Linked DNA regions of Homo sapiens: region 2 is linked to region 1. Evidence: fine-mapped expression QTL. Tissue or cell type: whole blood. Region 1 holds a variant in brackets; the other region holds the start of a gene. All regions are shown on one strand. Distances are between the middles of the regions.

Evidence for each region. PIP is the estimated chance that this variant, and not a neighbour inherited with it, causes the effect.
Region 2: it holds the start of SYNE3, and the variant in region 1 is fine-mapped to the expression of SYNE3 in whole blood (INTERVAL, PIP 0.98).

Annotation. Positions count from the first base shown.
Region 1 is chr14:95,406,976-95,409,728 of GRCh38, forward strand. It overlaps SYNE3 (spectrin repeat containing nuclear envelope family member 3), which reads right to left. Exons shown (of 18, transcript NM_152592.6): 18 at 291-2,753. Among named protein-coding and RNA genes, the nearest start is that of LINC02292, 79 kb to the left of the region's middle. The variant AT/A (reference allele first, on the strand shown) is at 1,280.
Region 2 is chr14:95,515,264-95,517,763 of GRCh38, forward strand. SYNE3 (spectrin repeat containing nuclear envelope family member 3) reads right to left here and starts at 1,387. Exons shown (of 18, transcript NM_152592.6): 1 at 1,333-1,387. SYNE3-AS1 (SYNE3 antisense RNA 1) reads left to right here and starts at 857. Exons shown (of 2, transcript NR_188030.1): 1 at 857-957; 2 at 1,741-2,500. RefSeq lists silencers at 789-1,083, 833-1,642.

The DNA.
Region 1 (2,753 bases):
TTTGGAATTCTCAGTATCCACTTGGCCTGCCCATGACCCCCACCCCTGAGACTGTGAACGAGGAGGTCTGGAGAGATGCTGAGAATGTGTTTGAAGATGCTCCCAGATGAGGCTGATATCCACATGAGATTGAGTGTTGCTGTCGCCCTGAGTTCAACCTCTGCATGAAAGAGGTTGAACTGGAAGTCAGAATTTTACAATGTCAGCCTTAGCCACATGTCATCTTTCTTCTCATAACCTCTTGGACAAACTCCTTTACTTCAGAAAACGAATTTCCAAACCACACAGTATTTCATAGACCAAAATAGAGATTTTTATTTCCAAACACAAAGCAGATACATTTTTAAAAACATAAAACAACAGCAAAAACGTCAAACCATCTTTTAGAACACTGCTACTTCCAACTTGCACAAAAGGAAGGGGAGGAAAACGTCAATGCAACTTTAAAATATAGCACTAAGAAGAAACTCCGGGGTCCTGGTGTTCCTCCCTGGATGGCGGGGAAGGCTCCATTAGCTTTGGACTTGATATGAACCGAGATAACACACACATGTTCCGAGACAGTCGTTTGGCTCCAATACTGCTTGCCTTCCCAGAAAGCTTAATTTATTGCAAATGCATGTTTTACCATCACAAATAATATGACAAGAGTAGATATGGTCCCTCTGCGTATTGTTTACATAATAGAATATTTAAAACAATGGAATGTGTTTGTCTTTGACATCAAAAATCATTTATGCAGCATCTACATGCACATATACACACACAAGTGTGAACGCATACACAAACACACACACACAGACACACACACACACACACACACACCCCATGCCATTGCTTGGTCCACACTGCATGAAACACACCATTCCAGCTACATGAACAGGTCAGTATCAGGTTAGTGTAACCAGGTCTCCAGGTACAAAGGATGAAGTGGGTTTGCTCACATAGACTTAGCTTAGGGTAGAGTGAACTTGTTTATGAGAACCTCGTTTATGCAGAGGTTGGACTCAAGGCGATCGCAGCACTCAATCTGGTGTGATCATCAGCGTCATCTGGGAGCAGCTTCAAAAACATTCTCAGCATCGCCCCAGACATCCTTGTTCACAATCTCAGGGGTGGAGGTCATGAGCAGGCCAAACTCACTCTACCCGACCTGCTGCCTCCAGGATGGGTTCTGAGGAGACATGGGGCCCTCCCATGGGACGGATGACAAATGAAACGAAAAAATCCATCTGGGTGGGGGGCTTTGGAATGAGGGCTCTGGTCTTTCGGACTTGAA[AT/A]TGGAGGGAAAACGTAATCGTTCCTCCAAAGCTGGTATTGGAAACTTGCCATTTTCCCAACACACACACACAGAAAGAGAGAGAGAAAGGAGAAAATTTAGGACCCACAGAATTAAGCCCTCTTTCAAAGCAGGTTATCTGCTATCCTGAGAAAAAGAGGGCATCGTGTCTAAACCAGCCCAAGGAAATTCCCAGATGACACAGATCTAAGGGGTCATCTGACCTTCCCTTCTTTATGGAGAATGCCAGGGAGAGGCATAAAAACTCTGGACTTTGGGTAAAACGTCCTGAGCCCGATGTGGTCTCCCTGGCTTCTGAGAGACCACAGGCTGGTGTCTGTTGTGCTGAAGCCCAGAGCTGGAAGCCAGGGCTGCCCAGTTGTGCTTCTGCATGGAGATGTGTGTAGTACTCACACATGCTATGCTCACATACGCGTGCATCCCTCCCACCCTGCCCACCCCTTCACATGCACACACAGCTTCCTCTGTCCGCTTCCTCCTCCCCAGTAAAACTTCTGGAACATGCACAAGCGACTGCCTCCTTGTTTCTCCCATGAGAGGAATTGGAACTGCTCAGCAGGCAGAGACCGCGCAAAGCCAACTCTGTCCTCTGCCTGCCCCCGCAAGGGCTGGCCTGTCCGTGCTTTTCCAGTGGGAAGGTAGACAGACAGTGGGTACCTGCTCCCGTCCCCTGGGACCTCATCCTGGTGTTGCCAGCTCCCTTCAGCGGTGGGAGTCAACGGACTTCCCCGCAGGAGTGGGCACAGGAGGAAAGCAGCATGCTGCCCCTGCTTTGGAATGTTGCCCTCCAGCTAACTCACCAGCTGCCAGAGTGGCAGCAGCCCGCGGCCTGCAAAGGAAAGGAAAGCAACTGAGGCCCAGGGAACATTCCATAGAGTGGAGCACTGGGCTCGGAGCCAGTCATGCCTGGGTACAAGTCCCAAATTTACCACTCCCCGCCTAGCTGGCTGCTCTGAGGCAGGCTGCTGACCCTCTCCACACTCTGGTTTCTGATCATGACTCCATAGCACAGGCTTTTTGAAAGTGTCATGACCATATTGCAGGCGCTCGGGGTATGTTTTCTTCCCTCCCTTTCTCATCAGAACAGGAAGAGGGACTGTAGGACTTTGTCCCTCATCTCCACAGAGGTGCTGGGGATGGGCTGGCCTGGTGTTCCTGGTTGCTGAGCTCAGAAGCAAGCGTTTCAGAAAGGAAGCCCAGGATCCTCGGGGGAAACCGAGGTCCCTCCTTATGATTGCTGTCTCTCGGCTGGACAAGGTGGTTGGGTTGGGGATGATGTTACCATGACAACCGGAGAGCAGGTGCTGGGAGATGCTGAGTCCTGCTGACTGTGCTTTAAGGCCCTGAACATCCTGCTGAACCATTTGCTTTTAGACCACGAGCCTGTGTTTTAATGTTCTTTTAGAAACAAATTCCTCCTTGTTCTTACTTTGAAAAACAGAAGTCGTTTCTC
Region 2 (2,500 bases), 110 kb after region 1:
AGCACCGTCCGGCCTGAGGAATGTGCAGACCCACATGTGCTGGAGCATCCCGCTGGGGCACAGTGACAGGAAACTGAGCAAAACAGCTCGTTGGCACTGATATGCCCCTCCCACCTCCCAGCTCCTGACTCCTATGGGCTGTTGGCTGCCCTGGAAGTGCAGGCGGCAAGCCCAGGCCCTTCAAGAGAGCCAGGCAGTGTGGCTCTGGGCAAATCACTCCCCCTCTCTGGGCCTGTTTCTGCTTCTCTTGGTGGATGAAGGACGCTGTCCTGCCAAGCTCAGAATGGCAGTGATTTTATGACATGCTCTCCTTTCTGGGAGGACGGTCCATTCTCCTCATGCCCTCATTCATGTGGGATGGGGCATGCCCCCAAGACACATCAAGCTATCCCACTAGCAGCCCTTGGCTGTAGAAAGCCCCCCCACCCAGTGCAGGGATAAGGGTGACCCTTCAGAGTTGAAAGGGGTGACCAGGAACCTGGGAGAGTCCCAGGAAAGCCCAGGGTTGGAGCTTCAGGGCCAAAGTGGTTAACTGAAAATATTCATTATCACCCCGCCCAGGCTGGAGGCCCCTGGCTTCCAGTTTTGAAGCAGAGGTCAGCTGGGCGGTGTAGGACACTGCTCCCGGGTTGACCAATGGGCCACATCAATGGGTCTGCTGTTTGGGGTCAAGATCCCAAGACCCCAGGGGAAGTCAACATCCATCTGAGGCTCTCTCAGGCCCTGCAAGCCATCTCTGGCCTCACTGCCCTCCCCTTTAGAAATGTGGGAATGAGGCTCAGAGAGGTTGAGCTGCTTGCCAAGTTTGCATAGCCAAAAGGCGTCTGAACGAAACTGAGCATTCGGGGTTGGACTTCCCCTCTTCGCCGCCTGCTCTGCTCTCCCAGGCACTACTGAGCGCGCTCGCGGTCGCCAGGAGCGGATTGGGCCCCCGCCGCGCGCAAGCCTTGGTGACAGGTCAGCCCGCCCCTAGGGGAGGCAGAGGGAAGCCCCGAGGAGGCACCCGGCCCGCTGGGGCGCGCTGCCCGGGGCTTTAGGGCTTTTTCTTGTGGGCCGGCCGAAGCTCCCCGGGGTTGAAAGGAAAGGCTCGGGAATTTCGCAGCCAGCACAGAACGGTTGGATTTAAACTAAAAATACCCGCCCGCCCGCAGCTGTCACGCCGGGGCCCCCGCCCCCGCGCCGGGCGCGCCTCCCCAGGTCCCCCAGACTTTCGGCGCCCCCGATTCCCGGGGCTGTGTCAGAGCTGGGCCAGGGGCTGAGGACCCCACCCGCCCGGCCCCCGGCCCCCGGCCCCCGGCCCCAGGCCTGGCCTCCCGGCCCCGTGCCACTTACCCTCCCGGAGCGTGGAGGAGCGCGGCGCCGCGGGTAGCTGGGGCCGAGCCTCCTTCCCTCCTCCCTGCGTCCCGGGCGGCTCCGGGGCGGGGCAGGGCTGGGGCGGGCCCGGACACCGCGAGTACCCCCGCCCCCGCCGGGACCCGCCCGGTGGCCCCGCGGGAGAGGCCGCGCCCCTCTCCGCACGCGCTCAGCGGAGGCCCCGGGTGCGCAACCCCAGCCCGGCGGACATCCTGCGTGGCCCCGGGGACCAGGGCCGAAGAAAAGCCTCACCGCTCCCTGTCGCGGACCCGGGGCGGGGGTTAAGGGGGGGGTCCTGTCCACGCTTGCCTGGAAAGCAGCCCGGAGCCCTGGCCCCTGTCTGTCTCCCCGACACACACACAGCCACCCACCCTCTTCTCATCCTAGGGGATGGCGCGGAGCTGCCTCTCCGGGAAAGTTGGATCTGTGCGCCCAGACATGGAAAAGGGATTAGGACACCGGCAGATCTTGCCCTCACAGAGCGGAGGTGGGGGCCTTGGAAGGGGCACACCGCCCGTAGGCGCGAAATCCAAGAAGAAAATGACACTCATCAGCCAGCCTCGCGCGGGGAGAAAGGGCGGGGTGGGGGGTAGTGGCACCCTGCCCGTCCTCTCCCACCCCCACAGTCCGGGCCCACAGTCCAGGAGTCACAAGGGATGTGAATCCCCAGGCATAATGTGAACCCCCAACAAACCCAAGGCCTCAGAATGCGCCTCACCTCTCCCTCCCCACCAGCAGAAACATCCTCCCACTCTCCCAACCCCTGCTCCAGCCACGCCAACCCTTTAACCTTGTCCCAGAATGTCTAAACTGTATCTGCCTCTGTGCCTGTGCACATGAAGTTGCCTTGGCCCGGCGTTTGCTCCACAGCCTTCTGCCAAACTCCTACTGCTTGATGGCTGGAAGCCTTCGCACCCTGGCGCTCTCCTCCCAGGTCAGCAGTCACTGGCCTTCCTGTGCATCCAGCCCAGCTTTGAACAGTCCTGGGCCCCAACCCTTATCTTTTTCCGAGTAATTACATGGTTGCATGATTGGCTTCACCGCCTCTGGATCAGATGAGCGCTACTAATGAAGGATACAAGTTGTAAAACTAGGTTTTATGTGAACTCCAGTCATCACAGTTTAGGTGCGGCTAGCGATTTTACAG